4 linked regions of the Homo sapiens genome follow. The protein of the gene in region 1 interacts with the protein of each later gene in a biochemical or structural test. Each region holds a gene or a part of one and is shown in the gene's direction. Other genes may lie near its edges.

What was found.
Region 2: the proteins of UBE2K (region 1) and RNF111 form a complex in vitro, tested with the Homo sapiens proteins (one study listed by BioGRID).
Region 3: the proteins of UBE2K (region 1) and RNF167 form a complex in vitro, tested with the Homo sapiens proteins (one study listed by BioGRID).
Region 4: the proteins of UBE2K (region 1) and TRIM13 form a complex in vitro, tested with the Homo sapiens proteins (one study listed by BioGRID).

What each region holds. Positions count from the first base shown.
Region 1 is NC_000004.12:39,701,133-39,708,155, forward strand, and holds part of UBE2K (ubiquitin-conjugating enzyme E2 K), read left to right. Parts: intron 1-7,023. UniProt on the Homo sapiens protein: Accepts ubiquitin from the E1 complex and catalyzes its covalent attachment to other proteins. In vitro, in the presence or in the absence of BRCA1-BARD1 E3 ubiquitin-protein ligase complex, catalyzes the synthesis of 'Lys-48'-linked polyubiquitin chains.
Region 2 is NC_000015.10:58,990,658-58,997,680, forward strand, and holds part of RNF111 (E3 ubiquitin-protein ligase Arkadia), read left to right. Parts: intron 1-258; exon of another isoform or gene 259-291; intron 292-7,023. UniProt on the Homo sapiens protein: E3 ubiquitin-protein ligase. Required for mesoderm patterning during embryonic development. Acts as an enhancer of the transcriptional responses of the SMAD2/SMAD3 effectors, which are activated downstream of BMP.
Region 3 is NC_000017.11:4,935,509-4,943,290, forward strand, and holds the start of RNF167 (E3 ubiquitin-protein ligase RNF167 isoform a precursor), read left to right. Parts: upstream 1-4,759; 5' UTR 4,760-4,852; exon of another isoform or gene 4,853-4,978; 5' UTR 4,979-5,401; coding exon 5,402-5,485; intron 5,486-5,568; coding exon 5,569-5,649; intron 5,650-6,832; coding exon 6,833-6,958; intron 6,959-7,068; coding exon 7,069-7,156; intron 7,157-7,342; coding exon 7,343-7,433; intron 7,434-7,670; coding exon 7,671-7,776; intron 7,777-7,782. Other genes in the region: SLC25A11 (mitochondrial 2-oxoglutarate/malate carrier protein), read right to left, coding at 2,233-2,388, 2,515-2,566, 2,646-2,745, 2,831-2,921, 3,004-3,094, 3,261-3,467, 3,552-3,704, 4,308-4,402.
Region 4 is NC_000013.11:50,007,025-50,014,047, forward strand, and holds part of TRIM13 (E3 ubiquitin-protein ligase TRIM13), read left to right. Parts: intron 1-4,910; coding exon of another isoform or gene 4,911-4,916; coding exon 4,917-6,140; 3' UTR 6,141-7,023. UniProt on the Homo sapiens protein: Endoplasmic reticulum (ER) membrane anchored E3 ligase involved in the retrotranslocation and turnover of membrane and secretory proteins from the ER through a set of processes named ER-associated degradation (ERAD).

The sequences.
Region 1 (7,023 bases):
ATGTTTCTTTTTATTAATTAATATTTATTTTCTTTGTTTTAGATGTTTGTTTTTAAATATGAGTGTGAATTTTAAGTAGTTTTAAATAATATTCCAAAGTTGTTAGGCATGGAATATTGATGTAAAGTACATTTTATAATTAGTTATTTTATGAGTAGGATTACATAAGTAAATTATTAATTGTGAGGATATAAACCCATAATCAATGTTTTATTCATAAGTTTTATTATTTACTATTAGTTATTGCTGCTGTTAATAACTAGCTGCCATTTGTAGAATGGCTAGTTGTTCTTAGTATCATTTGTTTTTACGTTATTGCTAATTCTTAAGCACAGTTCTTTAGATGTCCTATTTCCTAGATGAGAAAATAGAGATTTAGAGAAGTTAAATTATTTGTCTGCAATCACAGAGCCTGGGATTTGGATCTAGGTCTGCTTGTGTTCATATTGTCCCACGCTGTCATGACTTGCTAAGGATAGGCATGCTTTTAATTAATTTAAAAAATCGAGCCTGGTTTGTATTACTGGTTAAAGGATTTAAACACAGTTTAATTTGCTAGTTTAAACTCATTGAAATAAGTGTTACCTATAATTAACTTTAAGATGTACTTGAATTTCTTTCTTTCATGTTTTTTTTTTTTTCTTTTAAGAAGGAATCTCGCTGTCTCGCCCAGACTGGAGTGCAGTGGTGCGATCTCAGCTCACCACAACCTCTGCCTCCCAGGTTCTAGAGATTCTGCCGCCTTAGCCTCCTGAGTAGCTGGGATTACAGGTGCCCGCCACCACGCCCAGCTAATTTTTGTATTTTTAGTAGAGACGACGTTTCACCATGTTGGCCAGGCTGGTCTTGAACTCCTAACTTCAAGTGATCCGCCTGCCTCAACCTCCCAAAGTGCTGGGGTTACAGGCATGAGCCACCACACCCAGCCAGATTTACTTGAATTTCAATATACCAAATATTTTAAAATTTGAAACTTAATGAAATAAAACACCCTTAAATCAGTGCACTCTCTTGTTGGTCTTATGCTATATGGCACCTGTTGGTTTTTCATGTTGTAATTGCACTTTGGTAACATTTTCTTTTCTTTTCTTTTCTTTTCTTTTTTTTTTTTTTTTTTTTTTTTTTTTTTTTTTTTTTTTGAGACGGAGTTTTGCTTTTGTTGCCCAGGCTGGAGTGCAATGGCGCGATCTTGGCTCACCCCAACCTCCGCCTCCTGGATTCAAGCAATTCTCCTGCCTCGGCCTCCTGAGTAGCTGGGATTATAGGCATGCACCACCATGGCTGGCTAATTTTGTATTTTAAGTAGAGGCGAGGTTTCTCCATGTTGGTCAGGCTGGTCTTGAACTCCCGACCTCAGGTGATCCACCCGCCTCGACTTCCCAAATTGCTGGGATTACAGGAGTGAGCTACTGCACCTGGCCAACATTTTCTAGTCTCATAGGGCGTGTTTAAATCTATGGCATAAACAAATTGGTTTCGTGAAAATTACTATATAGTACATTAAGTTTTCCCTCATCATTTAAATAGATTTTTGTGTCTATTTTCCTTTAAAATTTTAATGTACTTGATCTAGCTTGATCTAGATTATTCTGTAATAGAAGTAGTTGTAAATCTCTAAAAGTAAGTCTTTTGATTTCTGTAGACCATGGATTTTTTAACCTTGGCACTACTGACATTTTGGGCAGATAGTTCTTTGTTGAGTGGCTCTCCTGTGCATTGTGGGATGTTTAGCAACATCCCTGACCTCTACCAGTATATGCAGGTAGCACTGCAGAGCCCCAGCGCATGTCCCCACTATCTCTTCTTGCTGGATGCATCAACTAAAAATGTCCCCAGACTGCCATATGTTGAGAACTATGTAGACAAAACTTTTTTTTTTGATACAGAGTCTTGCTCAGTCACCCAGGCTGGAGTGCAGTGGCACGATCTCAGCTCACTGCAACCTCCACCTCCTGGTTGCAAGCCATTCTGCCTCAGCCTCCCGAGTAGCTTGGATTACAGGCGCCTACTACCATGCCCGGTTAATGTTTTTATTTTTAGTAGAGACGGGGGTTTCACCATGTTGGCCAGGCTGGCCTGACAAAACTCTTTAAAAGAGTGTTTATGGCCAGGTGGGGTGGCTTATGCCTGTAATCTAGCATTTTAGGAGGCTGAGACTCGATTGAGGCCAGGAGTTCAAGACCAGCCTGGGCAACATAGTGAGAGTTTGTTACTACTAACATTTAAAAAAAATCAGCCAGGCCTGGTGGTATGTGCCTATAGTGGCAGCTACTCGGGAGGCCGAGGCTGGAGGATGCTTGAGCCCATGAGGTCAAGGCTGCAGTGAATTGTGATCATGTGACCGCACTTTAGCCTGGGCATCAGCGAGACCCTGTCTCATAAATGAAAAAAGAAAATGATTCCTGGCTATTTATTAACTATATAAGAAGAACACAGCCAGGCGTGGTGGCTCACGCCTGTAATCCCAGCACTTTGGGAGGCCTAGGCAGGTGGATCACGAGGTCAGGAGATCGAGACCATCCTGGCCAACATGATGAAACCCCGTCTCTACTAAAAATACAAAAATTAGCCGGGCATGGTGGTGAGTGCCTGTAGTCCCAGCTACTTGGGAGGCTGAGGCAGGAGAATTGCTTGAACCGGGGAGGTGGAGGTTGCAGTGAGCGAGATGGCACCACTGCACTGCAGCCTGGCGACAGAGCGAGACTCCATCTCAAAAAAAAAAAAAAAAAAAGAATACTTTGAGACTTAACTGTATCAGATGTGTAAGATAATTTATCTAAAGAATAAATGGACACAGACAGTAAAGACAAAAAATATATACTGGCTTTGAATGTTTTATTTTTAAAACTTTTAAGTTTGTTTCCCGTTTTTAGTGTTTTTCTTTTAAAATTTCTCGCTTTTGATTTTAATAAAAAGGTAAAATTTTCTACCAAAAATGAATGTAACGAGAATTTGAACAGTTGTTTCTAAGACTAGAGGCAGGCGTGGTGGCTCACATCGGTAATTGCAGCACTTGGGGAGGCTGAGGCAGGAGAATCGTTTGAGTCTGGGAGGTCGAGGCTGCAGTGAGCGGTGATTGTGCCACTGCACTCCAGCCTGGGTGACAGAGCAACACACTGTCTCCAAATAGTAAAAAAGTGGTTTTTAAAGTTTTTATTTTTATTTTATTTTTTCAAAAGTGTGTTTGAAAGTTATGTAAGTTACAGTTTTATGTAATATTTAAATAGTATTTCTTATGGTTTCTGGAATGGGTTGAGCAAGGAAAGCCTATAGATTGGGTTAAAAAAAATCAAAGTCTGTGCAGGTAATATGTTTGGGGTGAATTCCTTGTATACAGTGTTACAAAGACTTTGAGCTCTGTCCATTGGGCGTAGGTTTAGACACATCTGGGCTCCCTAGCTTCTTCCCTTTTTATTTATTTATTTTTGAAACAGAGTCTCACTGTCACCAAAGCTAGAATGCAGTGGCGTGATCACAGTTCACTGCAGCCTTGAACTCCCCAGGCTTAGATGATCCTCCTACCTCAGCCTTCCAAGTAGCAGGGACTAAAGGCGTCTGCCACCATGCCCAGCTAATTTATGTAATTTTTTGTAGAGACGGGGTTTCACCATGTTGCCCAGGCTGGTCTCGAACTCCTGGACTGAAGTGATCCTCCGGCCTTGGCCACCTGAAGTGCTGGGATTACAGACGTGAGCCACCATGCTTGGCCTGTCACCCCTTCTTAAAGACTATACACCTTTTTTTTTTTTTTTTTTTTTAGACGGAGTCTCCCTCTGTCGCCCAGGCTGGAGTGCAATGCGCCATCTCGGCTCACCGCAACCTCCGCCTCCCGGGTTCAAGCAATTCTCCTGTCTCAGCCTCCTGAGTAGCTGGGATTACAGGCATGTGCCAGCATGCATGGCTAATGTTTTTTTTTGTTTTTTTTTGTTTTTGTTTTTGTATTTTTAGTAGAGACGGGTTTTTACCGTATTGGCCAGGCTGGTCTCGAGCTCCTGACCTTGTGATCTGCCGCCTCGGCCTCCCAAAGTGCTGGGATTGCAGGCATGAGCCACTGCACCTGGGTTTTTTTTTTTTTTTTTTTGGGAGACAGAGTCTTGCTCTGTTGTCCAGGCTGGAGTATGGTGGCACGATCTCAACTCACCACAGCCTCTGCCTCCCGGGTTCAAGCGACTCTCGTGCCTCAGCCTCCTGAGTAGCTGGTATTACAGGCGCACCCCACCACGCCCAGCTAATATTTTGTATTGTTAGTAGAGACAGGGTTTTACCATGTTGGCCAGGCTGGTCTCGAACCCCTGACCTCAAGTGATCCAACTGCCTTGGCCTCCCAAAGTGCTGGGATTACAGGCGTGAGCCACCGTGCCCAGCCAAGACTATATACTCTTATTTCCCGTGAATACATTATTGACAGTTATTGAAAATATTGACTATAGCCCCAAAAGGCTTAACTGGTTAGAGATACAGGGCAGACAAAGGATAGATAAAAATGGTGGGGGCAAAGAGTAAATGCTATGGGATTCTAAAGGGTATCTGCATGAGAGAGATTCCTTTTTGTTGTTGTTTTGTTTTGTTTTTGTGACAGAGTCTCGGCTCTATCACCCAGCCTGGAGTGCAGTGGCTCCATCTCAGCTCACTGCAACCTCCGCCTCCCAGGTTCAACCAATACCTCAGCCTCTGGAATGGCTGGGATCCCGGGATTACAGGCATGCGCCACCACGCCCAGCTAATTTTTTTTTTTGAGACGGAGTCTCGCTTTGTCACCCAGGCTGGAGTGCAGTGGCGCGATCTCAGCTCACTGCAACCTCCGCCTCCCAGGTTCAACCAATACCTCAGCCTCTGGAATGGCTGGGATCCCGGGATTACAGGCATGCGCCACCATGCCCAGCTAATTTTCTTTTTTGAGACGGAGTCTCGCTCTGTCACCTAGGCTGGAGTGCAGTGGCGCTATCTCAGCTCACTGCAAGCTCCGCCTCTCAGGTTCATGCCATTCTCCTGCCTCAGCCTCCTGAGTAGCTGGGACTACAGGCGTCCACGACCACTCCCAGCTAATTTTTTGTATTTTTTTTTTAGTAGAGACGGGGTTTCACCGTGTTAGTCAGGATGGTCTCGATCTCCTGACCTCGTGATCTGCCTGCCTTGGCCTCCCAAAGTGCTGGGATTACAGGTGTGAACCACCCTGTCCGGCCACAATACCCAGCTAATTTTTGTAGTTTTAGTAGAGACAGGGTTTCATTGTATTGGCCAGGCTGGTCTTAAACTCGCGGCCTCAGATGATCTGCCTGCCTGGGCCTCCCAAAGTGCTTGGCTTAAATGGTGAGCCACCATGCCTGGCATGCCTGGACTTTTTTTTTTTTTTTTTCCCAGATGGAATCTCACTGTGTCACCCTGGCTGGAGTCCAGTAGCATGATCCAAGCTCACTGCAGCCACCACCTCCCAGGTCAAGCGGTTCTCCTGCCTCAGCCTACCAAGTAGCTGGGATTACAGGCGCGCCCCACCGCCCAGCCAATTTTTTATATTGTTAGTAGAGACAGGGTTTTATGATGTTGGCCAGGCTGGTCTCCCAAAGTGATAAGATTACAAGTGTGAGCCACAATGCCCAGCCAAGACTATATACTCTTATTTCCCAGTGAATACATTATTAACAGTTACCGAACATGTTGACCACAGCCCCAAAAGGCTTAATTGGTTGGAGATACAGGACAAAGGATAGATAAAAATGGGAGGGGCAAAGTGTAAATGCTATGGGATTCTGAGGGTATTTGAATGAGGGAGGTTCTTTTTTGTTTTTGTTTTGTTTTGAGTCAGAGTCTCTGTCACCCAGCCTGGAGTGCAGTGGCTTTATCTCGGCTCACTGCAGCCTCCGCCTCCTGGCTTCAAGTGATTCTCAGGCCTCAGCCTCCAGAATGGCTGGAATTACAGGCATGCGCCACCACACCCGGCTAATTTTTTTTGTATTTTTAGTAGAGACTGGATTTCACCATGTTGACCAGGCTGGTCTCACACTCCTGACCTCAGGTGATCTGGCTGTCTTGGCCTCCCAAAGTGCTGGGCTTACATGTGTGAGCCACCCCACCTGGAGTTTTTTTGTTTTGTTTTGTTTGAGATGGAATCTCACTCTCTCACCCAGGCTGGAGTGCGGTGACATGATCTTGGCTCACTGCAGCTTCTGCTTCCCAGGTCAGGCAGTTCTCCTGCTTGACCCAGTAGCTGGGATTACAGGCGCATGCCACCATACCCAGCTAATTTTCCTATTTTTAGTAGAGATGGGGTTTCTAGCCAGGCTGGTCTCGAACTTCAGACCTCAGGTGATCCGCCTGCCTTGGCTTCTCAAAGTGCTGGGATTACAGGCATGAGCCGTCGTGCCTGGCCTGTATGACTGTATGAGGGAGGTTCTTGAGCTAGGTGCCTTTTTTTTTTTTTTGAGATGGGGTCTCACTCTGTCGCCCAGGGGCACAATCATAGCTCATTGCAGCCTTGACCTCCTGGGTTCTAGCAGGCCTTCCACCTCAGCCTCCCGAGTAGCTGGGACTACAGGTGTGTGCCACCACACCTGGCTAATTTTTATTTTTTGTAGAGATGGGGTCTCATTGTGTTGCCCAGGTTGGTCTTGAACTCCTGGCTTCAAGCAGTCCTCCTGCCTCAGCCTCCCAAAGTGCTGGGATTATAGGCATGAGCCACCTCACCCAGCCTTCTTGAGCTGAGTTCTAGAGGAAAGTTAAGACTGACCTCAAATTTCAGGAGACAGTCCCAAAGGAATTCTGGTAATATTGCAATTTTTTTTTTCTGAGACAGTTTTGCTCTTGTTGCCCAGGCTGGAGTGCAGTGGCACAATCTCAGCTCATTGCAACCTCTGCCTCCCGGGTTCAAGCGATTCTCCTGCCTCAGTCTCCCGAGAAGCTGGGATTACAGGCATGCACCACCACGCTCAGCTAATTTTGTATTTTTAGTAGAGACCGGGTTTCTCCATGGTGGTCAGTCAGGCTGGTCTCGAACTCCGGGACTCAGGTGATCTGCCAGCCTTGGCC
Region 2 (7,023 bases), on another chromosome or scaffold:
CAAACAAACAAAAAAACTATGATTGTTGTTCCACATATTATTGCTATTGTTGTCCCATTGTAGATATTAATTACTGAAGCTTTAATAGCTTTCAGATGGTACTAAAAATGAAATTTTTTATTACTCCTGGTAACATTTTAAAAATCATCTGGAATAATTTGTTTTTCTTTCAGAAACCTGTAATTATTGTTCAGTAAAAGTCCACAATTACATTTGAATGTCTTATACCTCTGTTTGTTTCTTTCCTACATCCTACAGATTCTTGGTAACAGCTGGCCCAGGTTTCTACAGGTACTCAATTTATATCATTACATGAGGAGTGAATTACAAATATTTAAAGACAAATACTTAGCTGAGGCTGGGTGCGCTTGCTCATACCTGTAATCCCAGCACTTTGGGAAGCCGAGGCGGGTAGATCATGAGGTCGGGTTCGAGAGCAGCCAGGCCAACATGGTGAAACCCCGTCTGTACTAAAAAAAAAATACAAAAATTAGCTGGGCATGGTGGTGGCATGCGCCTGTAATCCTGGCTGCTCAAGAGGGTAAGGCAGAATTGCTTGAACCCGGGAGGTGGAGGTTCCACTGAGCTGAGATCTGCACTCCAGCCTGGGTGACAGAGCAAGACTCCATCTTGAAAAAAAACAAAACAACAAAAAAGCCTCCAAATACTTAGCTGAGCTTACATTTTAAAGAGCGGTACTGCATTATTACGTAGATACATTTATTGAATGTCTCATGTTCTAGGCACAGTCACTGGTCTTCAGTGAAGGCACTCTGCCTTCATGGAGCTGACATTCTGTTCTGTGTGTGGGAACATAATAAACAGAATGGTTTCAGGTAGTGGTAAGTGCCATGAGGAAAATAGGACCATGTGATACGGCATGGATGGAAGTGGTTTTACTGTAGATTGAGTGGTTAGGGAGGGCCTTTTTAGAGGTGGTAATTTGACCTGTGACTTCAATGACTAGAAAAAATCAGCCATAGTGACGATTTGGAGGAAGACTGCTACAGATAGCAGGGGCGGCAAATGCATTAGGTGAGGTTTGATTCTAGAGAATCTACAAATGTAAATTAATTATTTGGTTTGTCTGTTAAGCTTTTCATATTTGCTGTCAGATGATGTAGACAGATTAAAATTATTTTATGTGTAGTAACCAAATACAATATGTTGGTGTTGTTTAAACCCTGACTCAAACCAATTGTAGAAAGTCATTTTTGAAACATTGGGGGAAATCTGAATATGGATGGGTATTAGATGATATCAAGGAGTTATTGTAACTTTGTTAGGGATGATAATGGCATTATGTTTATGTAAGAAAATGACCACTTTTTATTAGTGATAGAGACTGAGGAATGAGGGAGAAAACTTGCAAATGTCTGGTATTTTATTTTATTTTATTTTATTTTGAGATGGAGTTTCCCTCGTTGCCCAAGCTGGAGTGCAGTGGTGTGATCTCAGCTCACTGAAGCCTCCACCTCCCGGGTTCAAGCAATTCTTCTGCGTCAGTCTCCTGAGTAGCTGGGATTACAGGAGCGCGCCACCACGCCTGCTAACTTTTTGTATTTTTAGTAGAAACGGTTTTTCACCATGTTAGCCAGGCTGGTCTTGAACTCGTGATCTCAGGTGATTCGCCCGTCTCGGCCTCCCAAAGTGCTGGGATTACAGACGTGGGCCACCGTGCCCAGCAATGTCTGTTATTTTAAACAGATACCAGATAAAAACCAAAAAATGTGGTGGAGGGAGATAAGATAGATGAAGCAGGTCTGGCACAATCTGGATAATTGTTGGGTTGGGGTGATGGGTACATGGGTATTAATAATATTGTTCTCTGCTTTTGTGAGGTTTGAAAATTGTTCATATTTTAAAATATATTTTTTTGGCTGGGCCCAGTGGCTCATGCCTGTAATCATAGCACCTTGGGAGGCTGAGGAAGGTGGATTGCTTGAGCCCAGGAGTTTGAGACTAGGCTGGGCAATGTGACGAAATTCTGGCTGTACCAAAAAAATACAAAAATTAGACAGGCATAATGGCACATGCCTGTAGTCCCAGCTACTCGGGAGGCTGAGGTGAGAGGATGGCTTGAGCCCGGGAGGCAGAGGTTGCAATGAGCCGAGATTGTGCCACTGCATTCCAGCCTCGGTGACAAAGCCAGACCCTATCTCAAAATAAATAAGTAAATGAAATAAAATAAAATAATATATTTTTGAAAACGTTCATTCATGTTTAGGCTGGACATGGTGGTGCACACCTGTAGTAATCCTAGCACTTTGGGAGGCTGAGGCAGGCGGATCACCTGAGGTCAGGAGTTTGAGACCAGCCTGCCCAACGTGGCAAAACCCTGTCTCTACTAAAAAATACAAAAAGTAGCCGGGCATGGTGGCGGGTGCTTGTAATCCCAGCTACTTGGGAGGTTGAGGCAGGAGAATGACTTGAACCCAGGAGGCAGAGGTTGCAGTGAGCCAAGATTGCGCCACTGCCCTTCAGTCTGGGTGACAGAGCAAGATTCCATCTCAAAAAAAAGAAAATGTTCAATTGTAAATAAAAATGTTTTAAAATAATTAGTAAAAGTGGCCAGGTATAGTGGCTCACACCTGTAATCCCAGAACTTTGGGAGGCCAAGGCGAGTGGATCACCTGACATCAGGAGTTCGAGACCAGCCTGGCCAACATGGTGAAACCTTGTCTCTACTAAAAACACAAAAATAAAAAAAATATAACTGTAAATACAAAAATTAGCTGGGCGTGGTGGTGGGTGCCTGTAATCCCAGCTGCTTGGGAGGCTGAGACAGGAGAATTGCTTGAACCCAGGAGGTGGAGGTTGCAGTGAGCTGAGATTGCACCACTGCACTCCAACCTGAGTAACAGAGTGAGACTCCATCTCAAAATTTGTGAAAGTACCATATTTAAGTGTCTGTTCCCTTCCACGCTTCTTTTCATTTTGATAAAAATACAGTATTTCGTTTCTATTTGTAAATGTTCAGTATTTATTCAACAAACAGGAGTGTTGTATTTCAGGCACTGTGCCAGTGCTTGAGTTAAAACAAAGGGCAGGCTCTTAACACCTGCCTGAAGGGGCTTATGGCTTGCTGGTGGAAAGGAGAGTTTGGCAGTGTGGATTGTGTTAACATGGAGAAGATTTTTGTGTTTTCCTGAGGGCATACACGATTAGCATCTTAGTTTAGTTTGTATGTGATTGGATTCTTAAAAAATATTTTTCCTTTTCTACCAAATAGAAAATTTAAGAAATTCTATATATGGCTAGGTGTCAAGTCTGAATCAATGTTGTAGTCATTTCCCTTATTCATATGTACTATAGGGCACTCGAATAAATTACTTATTTTACTATCTTTTGACATCCCAATTTGTTGTTACTTAAATTTTTTTTTTTTTTTTTTTTTTTTAATGGAGTCTCACTCTGTGGCCCAGGCTGGAGTGCAGTGGCCCCATCTTGGCTCATTGTCACCTCCACCTTCCAGCTTCAAGTGATTTTCCTGACTCACCCTCCCAGGTAGCTGGGATTAGAGGTGCACGCTACCACGCTCAGGTTATTTTTTATATTTTTGGTAGAGATGGGGTTTCGCTATGTTGGCCAGGCTGGTCTCGAACTCCTGACCTCAAGTAATCCTCCCGCCTTGGCCTCCCAAAGTGCTGGGATTACAGGCGTGAGCCACCACGCCTGGCTACTTACATTTTTATTTTGACATAATTTCAAACTTACCGAAAGATTTAAAAAATAGTACTGAGAACTCTTGAATACTCATTATTCAGATTCACCAATTTTTAATGTTGTCACTCTTGCTTTCTTATTTTCTCTCTCTTTTTTTTTTTTTTTTTTTTTTGAGGTGGAGTCTCGCTGTGTTGCCCAGGCTGGAGTGCAGCAGTGTGATCTCGGCTCACTGTAACCTCCATCTCCCAGGTTCAAGCGATTCTCCTACCTCAGCCTCCTGAGTAGCTGAGATTATAGGTGCCCGCCACCACGTCCAGCTAATTTTTGTATTTTAGTTAGAGACGAGGTTTCACCCTCTTGGCCAGGCTGGTCTCAAACCCATGACTTTAAGTGATCAGCCTACTTCAGCCTCCCAAAGTGCTGGGGTGAGCCTTTGCGCCTGGCCCCTTATTCTCTCTTGAATCATTTAAAAGTAAATTGCTTACATTATGCCCATTACATTGCATTATGCCCATTTGTTTCTAAATATTCACTGTGTATTGTATTCTTTTGCGTTATCACTGCACCAGTTACAAAATTCAGAAAATTAAACTTTGATAATATTAATCTACAGCTCATTTTCCAGTTTTGTCGAATTGTCCTGATAATAGCATTTATCCCTTTACAGCATTTTCCTCATAGGACCCAGTTCAGGATCACAAAATGCATTTAGTTGTCATATCTCTTTAGTCTCCTGTAATGTGGAACAGTGCACCTAATAAGCAATCTGTGGGGATAACTTTGAGATAGTGCAGCTACTCTGCTCCTCATCAGATCATCCTGTTCCTCATCACTCCCCACATCCCCCAAGGCCCATGTAGCATCCATTGATGTTTCTTGCCTATGCTGATCTTTACTGATCTTTACTCTAATGGTTGGAAAGTGTTTATTTTGTAACTCATCCATTTTCTTCACTAATGGACATTCTTTTATAAGGAAGAGACATTCTTTTATCTGATTAATACAGAATTGTGTGTTTCCTGTTTTATTCAGTGGGTTAAATAACCCATTATAACCTTTATTTTGATGTTCAAATTGTCCCAGATTTGTCCATTAGGAGCCTTTCCAAGTGGGCTCCTGTGTCTTTTTAACATAACCTCTTGTTTTTTTTTTTTGACGGAGTCTCACTCTTGTCTCCCAGGCTGGAGTGCAGTGGCGCGATCTTGGCTCACTGCAACCTCTGCCTCCCGGGTTCAAGCAATTCTCTGCCTCAGCCTCCCAAATAGCTGGGATTATAGGCGCCTGCCACCATGCCCGGCTAATTTTTGTATTTTTAGTAGAGACGGGGTTTCACCATCTTGGACAGGCTGGTCTTGAACTCCTGACCTTGTGACCTCGTGATCCACCTGCCTCAGCCTCCCAAAGTGCTGGGATTACAGGCATGAGATGCCGTGCCCCGGCCTTTTTTTTTTTTTTTTTTTTTTTTAAGTATTTCCTGTCTTTCTGGCACAGCAAGATGTTGCAAGCACATCTTATTTCTTTCCTTTGTCAGTCTTGGAATGAGCCGTTTTCCATGGAACCCTGGTTCCTTTTAGTGAGCAATCCAATTTGCTGTTGTGTTATTTATATACAGGAATAATCTTTTTTTCATGCATCAGGACATCGCTAGGAAACTAAATTTAAATTAGATTTTTGATAGTAGGTTTATATTTCTTTGAAGATTTTATGAAGTAATCACGTAAGACTCAGCAACTTATTGTCATAAAGCAATTTTTTTCTTCTTTTCTTTTTCAAATACATAATGAGTTATGTTCTTAATTGTGATCATATGAAATGAGAAAAAATTGTGTGTGTATGTTTAGCCACTTAACTGTTTATTAAAAACCTGAAGTTTATACTTTTAACTATTTTTAACTAAGTCATCAAACATTCTAATCTGAAGAAAACTGTTGCTTTTTAAGAAACTTTAAAATGAGTTCAAAAAATTGGGCTGGGTGCGGTAGCTCATACCTATAATCCCAGCACTTCGGGAGGCCGAGGCATATGGATCCCTTGAGGCCAGGAGTTCAAGATCATCCTGGCCAACCTGATGAAACCCTGTCTCAACTGAAAAATGCAAAAAAAAAAAAGTAGCCAAGTGGGGTGGTGCATGCCTGTAATCCCAGCTACTTGGGTGGCTGGAGCAGGAGAATCGCTTGAACCTGGGAGGTGGAGGTTGCAGTGAGCCGAGATCATGCCACTGTACTCCAGCCTGGGCAGTAGAGCAAGACTCCATCTCAAGAAAAAAAAAATTAAAAAATTATGAAACAGAATTTTTGTATGTGATTGAAAACTCATCAGTACTTTCTTTTTTTTTTTTTTTTTTTTTTTTTTTTTACCCAGGCAGTTACTGTTACATCTTGGTATATTTCATAGCCAGTTTCTCACCTGTGTATGGATATTTGCTTTATTTACTTATTCAATCTAACTTAATGTGTGTTTTTTCAAAGTAATATTTTGAATATTTTAAATTTTCAACCAATTAATATCTGTACACGGTTTTAAAAGTCAGTTTCAAAAGACTTACAATGAAAAACAGTGGTTTCCTATGCAACTCTCCTAATCTCCTAGTTGTACTGCTTAAACAGAAACATTTTAGCTCTCAAAAATTATTTCTGTAGTCTATACCTTTATATTTATAAGTAGTATGCTTATATTTGTTTGTATTTACTTGTGTACTTATATTTCTACTAATATGCTTAATTTTTACTTAGTTTTCATGTCAGTTTAAGTGTCTTTTTTTAAGTTAATTTTTTCAGAGAAAAGTAATATATACAAAGTGTACCAAATTTATAAGGTACAAAGAATGTACAGGGAAAAAAAACAAGGCTCCTTGCCATTCTTATCTTCCTATGACCCAAGTCTTTTCTCTGAAGATGTATCTCTTTCCTCCTGTATTTTATATGTGCATCCAGAGTAGTGGTTCTCAGAGTGTGGTCTGTTGACTCTTGAGGTAGCTCTTCCAAGTGTTCAGGAGGTCTACCAGGTTGAAACTATTTCAGAATATTACCAAGTTCTCATTTTCTATGTAACTGATGTGAACACCAGTTGACATTTGCACTGATGGTGCAAAAAACAGTGGTGCATTAAACTAATGGCCCTGTAGCACAAATCAAGACAGTGGCCAAACTGCATTAGTAATCACTATGTTCTTCATGACTACACATTTGCAGTTAAAAAAAAAAAAAAAATCAGGGCTGGGTATGGTGTCTCACGCCTGTAATCCCAGCACTTTGGGAGGCTGAGGTGGCCACATCACGAGGTCAAGAGATCGAGACCATCCTGGGCAACATGGGGAAACTCCATCTCTACTAAAAATACAAAATTAGCAGGGCGTGG
Region 3 (7,782 bases), on another chromosome or scaffold:
GGTGGCTGAGGAGGGAGGATCACCTGAGCCTGGGAGATGGAGGCTGCAGTGAGCCCTGAAGGTGCCACTGTACTCCAGCCTGGGTGACAGAGTGAGAGCCTGTCTCAAAACAACTTGGCTTCTTTTGGTGAAGAGTGGCTGGGGCACCTGTCATGAGAATTCACAAGGCTCCAAATGCCCTACCCTGGTCACAACTACTTATCCAATAGACCTCCAGTTACAGCCTACACTTCCCCTGCCTGGGGTGCCTCCTCTCCTCCAGGGCTGGCCACCCACCAGGCCACCCCAGGCATCAGATCCAGCTCAAAAATTGCCTTCCTGGAGTTTAATGACAACTGCTGGGACCTACCTGGCAGCAGCCTGCAGTACTAGGGGCAAAGGTGGGTGCCTGCTTTGCACCTGCAGCCTCAGAAGTGCAGCTCTCCTCACTGCCCAGGTCAGCAGGACAGCAAGGGGTGGACCCTGCAGCATGCACCATCTTGGTGTGACTGAATAGTCTTGGGTTTCCTGCTCTCAGGCTGGGACACAGGCAAATGGAACCCCATTTCTTTTCTCATAAATCCTGCCATTCTCTAAACACACTGGTGTGGCTTCCTCTCCTGCCTTGTCTCCAGCCCAATCCAAGGCTTGGGGCCCAGAGAATGGGACTATGGAGACCCCCATCCCCCTCCAGATGGTCCTGAAGATCTCCCAAACCTGAAAGTCTGACCGAATCTCTCCCCAGGTGGAGGACCAACTCCTGAGCTTGGCAGTCAGGGAGTGCCAAGCACTGACCCCATCTGACAGTCCAGCTTCATCTCAAGGGAGATACCTCACAGTCTGTGCTCCAACTATCACAAGCCTATAGATCACCTGCTCCCCAACAGTGTTTTACTCTAAGCCTTTGCCCTCAGTCCAGCCAGGTGTGCTATCCTTGCCCCATCCCCAGCCAGTCTAACCACTCAGTCTGCAAGTCACTACTCCCAGGCGAGGCCAGGTGCTCCAAGTTACCCTGCAACACTATTGCTACACTCAGTTTCCCAACTGCTCCTGTATAATCTTGTCTTCTGGACCAGGAACTCCTTAAGGACAAGGTCTAGGCTTCAGGCATCTCACAATAGCCACCAAGGCGCAGGACAGTGTACACAGAGGCAGCAGCAGGGGCGCCAGGATGCTGAGCTCCACCTCTTCTGCTGATGAGGCTCTGCCAAAGGGACAGCTCCCACCTGCTGCCTGCCTGTCCCCTAGCCTGGCAAGCACTCCTCAGTTTGACCTTCCCAAACTCTCTTGTGCCCCAAGAGGTTTTAAGGCTCCTTGAAGGCTGGCCTGGGAACCACACATCTTCTAAAGAAATGGACAAGGTTCTCACTCTCCCCAGCCAAGGACCCAGATCAGGTCTCTGGCCAGCATTCCCCTTTCCTCAAGCTTCCAGTGCCCACCCACTTAAGCCCTGGCCTTCCACCTGCACTGCCTCCAGCCCACAGTGGTCTGACTTCCTCTCTAAGTCTCTTTATTTCCTCCCTCTTTAGGCTGCAGAAGCAGTCATCAGACCGAGGGGCTTTTCCTGGGGATTATGTGAGATGATCTGGGCATCGGTGGCATTCTTGGGCGAGTGGCTGGAGGAAACACACCGGGCCTGGGATTTGAGTTTTTCTGGCCCTGTCAGCTGCTGTGGCATGACAGATTTATACAGCATTTGCAAAAAACCAGCGGCTGCTTTTTCTTTAACAATTTTTCTTAAAAACTCCAGTTCCTATTCTCCAGCTTCTTTGTCCAGTCTCCTCCCCTCTCCTAGCCACCCCCCAGACTCTCCAGATTTGGGGCTGGTGTCATCAATCCAATTTATTAAGTCCTCAATGAGGGGGAGGAAGGGCCACATCTCCCTCTGCAGGCCCTTTGACCATCTTGATGGCTTCTGCTCCTCCCTGTCCCCTCAGCTCTGCCTTGGTTTCCCCACTGACAAAGGGGATCTTCTGCTGTCCTGTGTGCCCTGAAACTAAAACCCAGGGGGAGGCCAGAAATCCTCAGAAGTTTTCCAGCTCCCTGCAAGAATAGCCAAGGACAGAGAAATCACAGGATCAGGACGAGCAGGGCAAGCTGGAGCAGGGGGTAGAACAGACCAAGTCCTTTACCGCAGAGGAAGAAACCACACTGTGGAAGGGAAATAAATAGAGGGGTCCAGGGCAGCAGAGCCCAGGCCCCCAGGGCGCAGTGGCTATAGGCGCAGCAGGCGAGTGGGAGCCCCCGGCCGCTTCAGCCACTGAGGAAGAGACGCTTGTAGGCCTTGTTCATCTGCTCCAAGAAGATGAAGGTGAGGACGGTGTGGGGGCCCAGGCGGGCATAGTACGGCGTGAAGCCCTTCCACAGGCTGAAGAAGCCCTCGTAGCGGACAACTTTGAACAGCACGTCCTAGACACAGACAGGCAGGGCGCTGGGGCTAGGACTCTAGGTCCCCATCCCCCTCACCCAGCTGCCTTCACACCTTTCCCAGGGGATCCGACACCCCCTCCCAGGCCCCCAGAATGGCTTCCTCACCAGCCCGTTCTTGTATTCCGGCTTCCCATCAATCATCCGCATGTTCTGGATTCTGCAGGAGAGGACGCAGGGGCATGAGAGACCGAAAGGGCACCCTCCCACCCACCTCCAGGCCCAGGCTGCACACTCACCGGGTCTTGGCAATGTCCACAGGCATGGAGGCAGCAGTGGTGACAAGACCGCTGATCATGCTGGCACAGAAGTGGCACAAGATGTTGTCAGAGAAGTAGCCTGGGGGAGGTGAGGCGGGGGTGGCAGTCAGCTCAGAGGTGGCTCAGGCCAGGCTGGGAACTAAGGGCCCAGCTCTGGATCTCACCTGAGTCCAGTAAGAACTGCTTGGATTGGGAGTAGGAGGCGAGCTGGGCAGCATTGACGACGACGGCCCGAGCCATGGTAGGGATGCAGCCCTGGAGGGAGGGGAGCGGGGAAGAGTCAGAAACCCCTAAAACCAGACCTCACAGCCCCCAAGTCTCCAGCCCCTCCACTCACCCGCCACAGTGTGAGGACACCCTCTTCCCGGGTGATTCGAATCAGGGCGTTAAACACATTTTTGTAGCCACGGCGCTGGTCAGCTGGAAGCCTGGTGGGAAGGCAGAAAGAGGTCAAGATCAGGATTGCCCACAGGTGCAAAGAAAGGAAGGCCAGAACAGGTAAACACTCTGCTCCAGATCCGGGATAAAAAACTGGTCCTTTCATTCTAGATTCGAGGGAATGGGGCTGGGGTTAGGTTCAGACTTGGAACTCACCGGCCATCGGCAGTCATGCGGATAAGAGCCACTTCGGCTGGTGTTCCCACAAAGGCACCAGTGGCACCTGCGGTCATGCCAATCACAGCCTTCAGCAGAAAGCCAGGGGGAGTACCATCAGCCCCAGTCAGGCGCTCAAACAGCACGGTATAGATGCCAAGGCGGGTAGTGGTGTAGGTGGCCTGACGCAGCAGGCCAGCCGACAGCCTGAGGAGCAGAGGGGTCAGCATATCAGGCCAAGGTCTAGAGCTGCCAACCCACAGTCTACCCTCCATCCTGAGGCCCCAATACCCAGTGTAAATGCCCCTCAGGCCTTCTGCCTTCAGGATACTGGTGAGGGCATGGAAGCTGGTTTTGTACTCTCGAGTCTTGGCCCCTTCCCCGCTCAACTGCATCCGGTTCTTCACCAGGTCCAGGGGCTGGACAAAAACTGTAGCTCCCATCCTGGGGGAAGACAGAGGTGGAGTGAAGGGCCAGGCATTCCAGATCTACCAGTGCCCACTGGAGCCTGGCAGCAAGAGGTTACAAAGGTCAGGGCCTGCCATGCGATTCAAGAATCAGGATGCTGGTGAGCATGTGTATAAGAGTCTATATGTACACCAAGTGCAACGGGTCTGAAAAGTCTAGTTGTCCAGTAGGGGCCATGCAATGAAAGTGCTCCAAGCAGCTTCATGACAGTCAAGCAGTGACCTGGGGCTGCACGCAGTCCGACACAGGGAGGGGAGGAAGGGGCATCCAAGATTTAGGACTCCAGGTAGTCCTGCAGGAGCCATTTAATGGCCTGGAACCCCCTGCCGCCCGGCCGAGCTTAGCAATGCGCTGGGAAACTCAGCTGGCCCGGCGGGGGTTGTGCAACGACCCTGCATGCAGTCCATAAGGGTCCTGCAATGGGGCCCTAGCAGCCCATCGGGGAACTCGCAATACGCTGGAGATCGCGCTGACCCCGTGCCGGCACAGTTCACTGCAACAGACCCAGAGATGAACCGGGCCCGGTTCCTTTTGCCCTTCCCTTCCTCCTCTTTTCCCATCCCTGGGGCCTGAGCTTACCCGGCCAGGCCCCCAAACAGGAACTTGACGGACTTAGGGGAGGTACGGGGCTTCCCGTCTATCCCGCCGGCCCCGGCACTCGCCGTCGCCGCCATCGCCACTCAATGGCCCTCGGCTCCGGGTCCCGTGCGCGCGCGGCCCCGCTCGCGCCCAAGGTGACACCGCGCGCGCAACAGAGCGAGGGCGCGCGCACGCCCCTCCAGCTCTCAGGTCCGACACCCGCTGGAAGCCGGCGCGGGCGCAGGCGCGCAGCGCAAAGGCGGCCGGGAGTAAGGCGGAGCTGAAGGAGGAGCTTGATGGAAGCGTGCGAGAAGGGGCGTAACTGATTTGGAAACCAGAGGAAAGGCGCTGTTTTCACCGAATTAGAATCGCGGGAAAATAGAGAAGAGTTTGTTTGAAGGTCTCGCGAGATCGAGTGAGTACGGCTCGCCAAGTTGGAGCGCTCTCGCGATAGACACAGCAACTATTCAGCTGCGAGGGGACGGGAGAGGTGGTGAGCACTCTCGCGAGATTTGAAGGAGCGGCGGAGGCCAGAGGGAGGAGAGGTTTGTAAACTAGGAGGCTCCGGGTTTCCGGGCACTTTTATTAGGTCGTCTTCTGGGCCACCAGTGCCCCTTCCATCTCCACAGGCAGTCCCTCCATCGCTAACCTTTTTTTAACCGGCCTTTTAGGACCGGAAGTCCTTCATCTCAAGCATCCAATGCTGAAAGCGGCCTGATTTTCTCTACCGGAAGCCCTTTTCCAGAGGCTGGGAACACGGCCCACCTAGCAGGAAGTCCCACCTCCTTGAGCTCCGCCACCCTTCCCGAAGTTTTTCTGTCACCTGTGTTAGGCTCCGTCCCCTTTCCGCGTTTTATCCCCGTACCAGAAAAGGATACATTTAGTGCCTCCCACCCAGCTCCACTAAACGGGTTGGATATCTCATTCTTTGAGTTGGTGTTCCTTCCCCGGCGCCCCCATGTAGCTGGGAAGTGGGACCTGGGGGTGGTTGGACCCCTGGGATCCTAAAGGAGGGGCAGGGAGGGCGCAGAACTCCGCTTCTGCTCCTTGCTACCAGGACGCGCGGCCTCCTCAGCCTCTTTCCTCCCGCTGCCATGCACCCTGCAGCCTTCCCGCTTCCTGTGGTTGTGGCCGCTGTGCTGTGGGGAGCGGCCCCGACCCGGGGGCTCATTCGAGCGGTGAGTCTGAGGGACGGATGGGGAAAGGGCGCTGAAAGGAAGGGTTGCAGGCTGAAGGGGAACATCGCCTTTTTTGTCCGCAGACCTCGGACCACAATGCCAGCATGGACTTTGCAGACCTTCCAGCTCTGTTTGGGGCTACCTTGAGCCAGGAGGGCCTCCAGGTGATTTTCTTTCTTTTCTTTTCCTCCTTCCCTCCCTTCCTTCCTTTTCTGTCTTTTTTCTTTTTTTAGTATTTCGCAAGATCCTCCATCCTAGGCTGGGGTTGGGGAGGTTTGTCCTGGGTGAAACTGGAGGTAGGAAAATGAAGTTAGGAACTGAGCACGTCTAGTGTAGAACCCAGAATCTAGAGGGAGAAGACAGAGTGTCCACCCCTGGAACTCCGAGGTTATCAGGGAGACTGAAAGTGGACGAAGACAGAAGGCAGGATCAACGGTCCTTATCAGGAAGGTCTCAGGTGCTAGTTATTGCTTATATGACTTTGGGCAAGTTAATCTCTCTGAGCCTTAGTTTGTTTTACTGTAAAATGGGATATTAGAAGTTTTCCTAGGGTTATTGTGAAGATCAAAGTAGATACGCAATTTTGGTAGTATTTCATCCCAAAGACTGCCACATAGCAAGAACTCAGTTGGGCCTTAGTAGCAGTCGAGTTGTTTGTGAGATGGGTAATTAGAAAATTGAAGAGGCCGGGCGCGGTGGCTCACATCTGTAATCCCAGTTCAAGACCAGCCTGGCCAACATGGAGAAACCCTATCTCTACTAAAATGGCAAAAATTAGCTGGGCGTGATGGTGCACGCATGTAGTCCCAACTACTTGGGAGGCTGAGGCAGGAGAATCACTTGAAACCGGAAGGTGGAGGTTGCAGTGAGCCGAGATCGCGCCACTGCACTCCAGCCTGGGTGACAAAACGAGACTCCATCTCAAAAAAAAGAAAAACAAAAAGAAAACTGAAGGGAGGGGAGTGTGTCTGTATGAGTATGTGCTGGAGAGGGGACTGTGAAACAGAACTTGAGAGAAAGTGACATGGGTGGTTTGAGAATTGAATTACAATTGGAATATTAGAAGGCAAAAATAATTGCATTAGCTTGCAGTATAGGGTACAGATTAGCCCATCTGGGACAGCGAGAGGGATGATGGGAGAGTTTGGTGAAGGGATGTTTTATGTCATTGCCTTTTCAAGAGGCTAAGAGAAGGTTGTGATGGTGGGATGCTCACTCAGACCCCAGGAAGGAGGAGGAAGTGAGGATAGAGGATGTGCAGCATGTGGGCTGGTGTGTTTGGTGGCCCCTGTAGAGAGCAGAATCTAGAAAGGAGAAATCTCACTGTTGTTTGCTTCCATCCTTCAGGGGTTCCTTGTGGAGGCTCACCCAGACAATGCCTGCAGCCCCATTGCCCCACCACCCCCAGCCCCGGTCAATGGGTCAGTCTTTATTGCGCTGCTTCGAAGATTCGACTGCAACTTTGACCTCAAGGTTGCTGAATGAGGAAGGGGAGCTGGGCAGCTGAGGGTAAAAAAAAGGCACCAGGAATGAAGACAGGTAAGGCCCATGATGGCTCCTTGTCCTCTGCCTTGTCTCCCTAGGTCCTAAATGCCCAGAAGGCTGGATATGGTGCCGCTGTAGTACACAATGTGAATTCCAATGAACTTCTGAACATGGTGTGGAATAGTGGTAAGGCTGGGGGAATCTATACAGCTGGGCTTTCAGTAGGACCCAGAGATGGTGGGAAGGCTGAAGGCCTCAGGAAAAGAAGCCAATCCTTTAGGTGGGGTGGGGCCAAAGTGCAAGATGCCAGGGTTCCCAGAGGATTTGAGTAGAAGGTTGTGAGTCCCCAGAGTAACACCTTGATCCCTGCAGAGGAAATCCAGCAGCAGATCTGGATCCCGTCTGTATTTATTGGGGAGAGAAGCTCCGAGTACCTGCGTGCCCTCTTTGTCTACGAGAAGGGGTAGGACATGTGCCTCCTTCCCATTCTTCCTTCAGCAAGCAGTTCCATGCCAACCTGGAGCCCAGGCCTCCTCATTACCCGAACCATTCAGCCTCCTGTCCTTCCTTCCCTGCCTCTTTGACTTTCTTCCCATTCCTGTCCCCACCTATGGGCTTTGTCCAGAGCCAGTTACTTTGTCCCTCTTTTTTTCTCCCTTTGCCTTTCTCGCCCTGCTGAGACTGGTCATCCTTTTCCCAGGGCTCGGGTGCTTCTGGTTCCAGACAATACCTTCCCCTTGGGCTATTACCTCATCCCTTTCACAGGGATTGTGGGACTGCTGGTTTTGGCCATGGGAGCAGTAATGGTGAGT
Region 4 (7,023 bases), on another chromosome or scaffold:
TACAAAAGTTAGCTGGGCATGGTGGTGGGCGCCTGTAGTTCCCAGCTACTCAGGAGGCTGAGGCAGAGGAACCGCTTGAACCCGGGAGGCAGAGGTTGCAGTGAGCCGAGATTGTGCCACTGCACTCCAGCCTGGGTGACGAAGTGAGACTCTGTCTCAAAAAAAAAAAAACCCAAAAAAATAGGGCCCAGCGTGGTGGCTCACGCCTATAATCCCAGCACTTTGGGAGGCTGAGGCAGGTGGATCATGAGGTCAGGAGTTCAAGACCAGCCTGTCCAAGATGGTGAAACCCCGTGTCTATTAAAAATACAACAAAATTAGCCGGGCGTGGTGGCCGGTGCCTGTAATCCCAGCTACTCGGGAGGCTGAGGCAGGAGAATTGCTTGAACCTGGGCAGCAGAGATTGCAGTGAGCCGAGATTGCACCACTGCACCCCAGCCTGGGCAACAGTGAGACTCTGTCTCAAAAAAAAAAAAAAAACGCCAGGCACGGTGGCTCACCCCTGTAATCCCAGCAGTTTGGGAGGCGGGTGGATTGCCTGGGGTCAGGAGTTTGAGACCAGCTTGGCCAACATGGTGAAACCCCGTTTCTACTAAAAATACAAAAATTAGCTGGGCGTGGTGGCAGGTGCCTGTAAATCCCAGCTACTCTGGAGGCTGAGGCAGGAGAATTGCTTGAACCCGGGAGGCGGAGGTTGCAGTGAGCCAAGATCACACCATTGCACTCCAGCCTGGGTGACAAGAGTGAGACTTAGTCTCAAAAAAAAAAAAAAAAGCCATAAACTAATTAACCCTGCAAGCTCAGCTTGTCCTTTAAATACTGTTTACCTTCTAGATATAGTCCAGTCATGTATGGCTGTTGAAATTACTGTTAAAAAAGTATTCGCTTTTTTTTTTTTGAGACAGAGTATTGCTGTGTTGCCCAGGCTGGAGTGCAGTGGCGCTGTCTCGGCTAACTGCAAGCTCTGCCTCCTGGGGTCACACCATTCTCCTGCCTCAGCCTCCCAAGTAGCTGGAACTACAGGTGCCTGCCACCACGCCCAGCTAATTTTTTTGTATTTTTAGTAGAGACGGGGTTTTACTGTGTTAGCCAGGATGGTCTTGATCTCCTGACCTCGTGATCCGCCTGCCTCGGCCTCCCAAAGTGCTGGGATTACAGGCATGAGCCACCCGTGCCCGGCCAAGTATTCACTTTTTATCATAGATGGCCTACCGATTAAGTCATATGTTATTGTTGATAATGTGATATTGTTGATAATGTGATATGTGCATATATCCCTGAGTAAACTGAATGTAGAAATATGTAGTACTCTTTGGTTTTACAACTATAGAGATGAATGTATATTTAAAATAAACTTGTGGCCTGATGCAGTGGCTCACACCTGTGATCTCAGTGCTTTGCGAGGCTGAGGCAGGAGGATTGCTTGAGGCCAGCTAGTAAGACCTGGTCTCTACAAAAAAAAAAGTAGCCAGGCGTGGTGGTGCATGCCTGTAGTCTTAGCTACTTAGGAATCTGAGGCAGGAGGATTGCTTGAGCCCAGAAGTTTGAGGCTGCAGTAAGCTATAATTAGGCCACTGTAGTCCAGCCTGGACAACAGAGCAAGACCCTGTCTCTCAAAATAAGAATTAAAAATAATAAACCTGCATTGAGAAATGGTATTGCCTGTATTAGGGATCTCAAATATTTTGGTCTTAGGACACTTTTACACTCTTAAAAATTGAGAATCCTGGCCTGTAATCTCAGTGTTTTGGCAGTCTGAGGTGGGAGGATCACTTGAGCCCAGCAATTTGAGACTAGCCTAGGCAATATGGTGAGACCTCATCTCTACAAAAAAAAACTACAAAGAAAAAAAAAATTAGCTGAGTGTGATGGTGCGTGCCTGTAGTCCCAGCTACTTGGAGGTTGAGGCAGGAGGATGGCTTGAGTCCAAGAGGCAGAAGTTGCAGGGGACTGAGATTGCACTGCTGTACTCCAGCCTGGGTGAAAAAGCTGTCTCAAAAAAAAAAAAAAAAAAAAAAAGAGAATCCCAAGAACTTTATGTTTGTACTGTCGATATTTACTCTATTAGAAATTAAAACAATTTTTAAAAAATACTCACGTAAAATAACAATGATAAACCCATTACAAGTTAACAAATAATTTAGGAAAATAACTATTTTCCAAAACAAAATTAAGAGAAGCATGGCATTGCAATAGAGGCCTGTAATGAATGGCTATTTAATAGAAGACAGCTGGAGTCTTTTGTCTGCTTCTGTATTTAACCTGTTGGAATATATTATTTTGGTTGAAATAAACGAAGAAGGCTGGGTGTGGTGGCTCATGCCTGTAATTCCAGCACTTTGGGAGGTGGAGGTGGGACGATTGCCTGAGGGCTGGATTTCTAGACCTGCCTGGGCAACATAGTGAGACCCTGTCTATAAAAAAATCCACGGCCAGGCGCGGTGGCTCACGCCTGTAATCCCAGCACTTTGGGAGGCTGAGGCGGATGGATCACCTGAGGTCAGGAGTTCAAGACCAGCCTGGCCAACGTGGTGAAACCCCGTTTCTACTAAAAATACAAAAATTACCTGCGTGTGGTGGTATGTGCCTGTAGGCCCAGCTACTTGGGAGGCTGAGGCAGGAGAATCACTTGAACTCGGGAGGTGGAGGTTGCAGTGAGCCAAGATAGCACCACTGCACTCCAGCCTGGGTGACAGAGTCAGACTCCGTCTCAAAAAAAAAAAAAAAAAAAAAACAACAACAACAAAAAACACTAAAACTAAAAATTAGCAAGGCATGGTGGTGCACACCTGCAGTCTGTAGTTACTTGGGAGGATCTCACTTGAGCCCAGTATTTCAAGGCTGCAGTGAGCTATGATCATGCCAGTGCACTCCAGCTTGGGTGACAGAGTGAGACACCCCATCTCTTAAGAAAAAAAGAAAAGAAAAGGAAATACACAAAAATCTAGGCTTACACAGATATGTAGTTGGTAAAGGAAGGAATATTATTTAAATAGCCTTTTCAGGTAATTTAATCTTTTTTTTTTTTTTTTTTTTTTTCCTGAGGCAAGGTCTCTCTCTGTTGCCCAGGCTGGAGTGCAGTGGTGCTATCTCGGCTCACTGCAGCCTCTGCCTCCTGGGCTCAAGGGATTCTCATACCTCAGCCTCCCGAGTAGTTGGGACTACAGGCGCATGCCACCATGGCTGGCTAATTTTTTTGGTATTTTTTTTGTAGAGGTGGAGTTTTGCTATGTTGCCCGTACTGGTCGTGAACTCCTGAGGTCAAGCGGTCCACTCTCTGCAGCCTTCCAGAGTGTTAGGATTACAGGCGTGAGCCACTGCTCCCAGCCTGAATCTTCTTGTGATACTATACAAAAACTCAGCAAGTGCTAGTTTCTTTGTTGGAGTATGGAATCTGAAATTGTTTATGAACCTGTTGGTCTTTCGTGAACTTCAAATGGATCTTTTACCCATGCCTGATTTGTAACATGCATTAGTGACTTGAAATAGTATTCACTGTGTTTTGCAGATCTCCAAATATTGACACATTTCATTATACAGTACTCCTTTCCCCTCAGAAAATCCTCACATTCATTAATATCACTGCCCATCTCATCATAAAAGTCTTTAATTAATGGGAAGCTGTCAGGCTCATAAATATCAAATGTTTTCCAAAATTCTAATTTTTACATAAAACCCAGCCTTTTCATTAGCAAGAGATACTGTCAATTGTTTTCTTTGAAGTAGCAAGCTCATTTTTTTTCCCCAGAAAATGTCAGGTAGCTAAGTCTGAATAGCCATAGTTTATCATTTGTTCTTTCAGAAGGTAAAAATGGTGTTCCATGAAAAAAAGCAGCTGGTTTAACTTGCCGCTCTTCACTTAAGTGCTTTTTCTCCAGACAACATCTGCCGGTATGCAGAAGTGCTTTGTGCGTACTGCCTATTTTGTCACGCAATATATTAAAAAACTGTACACAGGCTCAAGACTTAATAAAATGAATAATTTTTACTGCTGCATCAAGAACATTCTTAAGTGAAACCGGTACTCCAACCCCAATTTGGGTGGTGATGAAGAATACAATTCAGCGCTTCTTACAGCTTTGCTCGATCCCTCCTAAGGCTTCAGCAGTGTCTACACACCATTGCTTTTACACCATTGGTACAAATGTTGACATGGTGCAAAAAGCAAGTAACATCTTAGTGTCATTACGAAAATAGTTTTGATCTCACAGATGCCCTGAAAGAGGGACATCCAGGTTTCTGCCCACCACATTGTGAAAATTGATGATTCTAGATAATACAAAATGGCTTCTGTTACTGTTCTGGTGGTTTAAAAACAACAAAAAACCTCATTTAGTTCTCTACCTAGAAGAGTGAATTGCAACTCTCATCTTGTGCTTTTACCTGTGATTTTAAAAATTGTAATCTTGCCTTTGAAACAAAAATATGCCAATTCATAATAAAGTCTACATGAGAGTACATGTTTGGATTTATATTTCTGTGCTTCTTTCTTTTATATAACATACCATTTCATATTTGTGGGCCCAGAGTAAAGAGCTCATTCTGTTACAGACACTGAATAGCCTTGTTTTTGTCAGTAGTCAGCTCTGTTTTAAAACAATTGCTTGGGTCCTGCTGGCTCAACTTGCAGTTGTCCTAGTCCTGAGTCTTGTCTTAGCCAAAGACTGTTGTTGGAAAGCCCACACAAAGGCCTTGTGTATAGGATGCCCTACTATTAAAGGAGCATGTTCTAGTCTCAGTGGATTAAATTTGCTTTGGTGTGCATTCCCTTACCAAATTTCTCACTACTTTGTTTGGCTGGTTATTTCAGTGAAAAATCATTTTAACGTGAAGGCAGATTTCTTCTAATTATTACATAGTCCTAGTGGTGACGGTTATTGGAGTAAAATAATTTTTTTTTTTTCTGGTAGGATGTGATGGAGCTGCTTGAAGAAGATCTCACATGCCCTATTTGTTGTAGTCTGTTTGATGATCCACGGGTTTTGCCTTGCTCCCACAACTTCTGCAAAAAATGCTTAGAAGGTATCTTAGAAGGGAGTGTGCGGAATTCCTTGTGGAGACCAGCTCCATTCAAGTGTCCTACATGCCGTAAGGAAACTTCAGCTACTGGAATTAATAGCCTGCAGGTTAATTACTCCCTGAAGGGTATTGTGGAAAAGTATAACAAGATCAAGATCTCTCCCAAAATGCCAGTATGCAAAGGACACTTGGGGCAGCCTCTCAACATTTTCTGCCTGACTGATATGCAGCTGATTTGTGGGATCTGTGCTACTCGTGGGGAGCACACCAAACATGTCTTCTGTTCTATTGAAGATGCCTATGCTCAGGAAAGGGATGCCTTTGAGTCCCTCTTCCAGAGCTTTGAGACCTGGCGTCGGGGAGATGCTCTTTCTCGCTTGGATACCTTGGAAACTAGTAAGAGGAAATCCCTACAGTTACTGACTAAAGATTCAGATAAAGTGAAGGAATTTTTTGAGAAGTTACAACACACACTGGATCAAAAGAAGAATGAAATTCTGTCTGACTTTGAGACCATGAAACTTGCTGTTATGCAAGCATATGACCCAGAGATCAACAAACTCAACACCATCTTGCAGGAGCAACGGATGGCCTTTAACATTGCTGAGGCTTTCAAAGATGTGTCAGAACCCATTGTATTTCTGCAACAGATGCAGGAGTTTAGAGAGAAAATCAAAGTAATCAAGGAAACTCCTTTACCTCCCTCTAATTTGCCTGCAAGCCCTTTAATGAAGAACTTTGATACCAGTCAGTGGGAAGACATAAAACTAGTCGATGTGGATAAACTTTCTTTGCCTCAAGACACTGGCACATTCATTAGCAAGATTCCCTGGAGCTTTTATAAGTTATTTTTGCTAATCCTTCTGCTTGGCCTTGTCATTGTCTTTGGTCCTACCATGTTCCTAGAATGGTCATTATTTGATGACCTGGCAACTTGGAAAGGCTGTCTTTCAAACTTCAGTTCCTATCTGACTAAAACAGCCGATTTCATAGAACAATCAGTTTTTTACTGGGAACAGGTGACAGATGGGTTTTTCATTTTCAATGAAAGATTCAAGAATTTTACTTTGGTGGTACTGAACAATGTGGCAGAATTTGTGTGCAAATATAAACTATTATAAAATCTGTTTCAAGTATGCAGTTTTCTTTTGTTAGAAATTGTTAGAGAATAGAGAGTGGTAATTCAGATTTGGTCAACGATTCTAGTCACATATTTTCCTCCAAAAGTATTCCTTCCAAAAATAATCTATACATGTTCAAATTAGGTAGCATAAAGATAAAAGTGAAATTTAGTAGTATAGGCCTGAACCTTTTTTTGTTTAAAAGAGTGCTTTTGAAATAAGCATCCACCCCAAATGTTGGTTGTATTTATGCTGTGATAAAAATAGGTGAGAGATCATATGATCTAATATTGTATTGATGGAAGTATAGGTAGTATAGTAGTGATTGTTCTTCAAGCATGCAGTAAAGATCACTTTTTTTTTTTTTTTTTTTTTTGAGATGGAGTCTTGCTCTGTCGCCCAGGCTGGAGTGCAGTGATGCAATCTTGGCTCACTGCAGCCTCTACCTCCCAGGTTCAAGTGATTATCCTGCCTTAGCCTCCTGAGTAGCTGGGATTACAGGCGCGTGCCACCACGCCCAGCTAATTTTTTGTATTTTTAGTTGAGACAGGGTTTCACTGTCCCTTAAGACCATCCTGTTAGCCAAGATGGTCTTGATCTCCTGACCTCGTGATCCGCCTGCCTCGGCCTCCCAAAGTGCTGGGATTACAGGTGTGAGCCACCGTGCCCAGCCAAAGACTGCTCTTAAAGCACCTTTTTGACAGTGAACATGGTCTAAAAAAGGGAAGATATTGTAGAAGATTTCACACACACACGCGTGTGTGGGAGACAACTAAAGGTATTGAAGGTACTAATTAATTAGATTTCCAAAATTTTCTACAGAGAGTTAATTATCACCAAAATGTGAATGGTACATACAAAACCTGGCATTTTCTTGTGATAA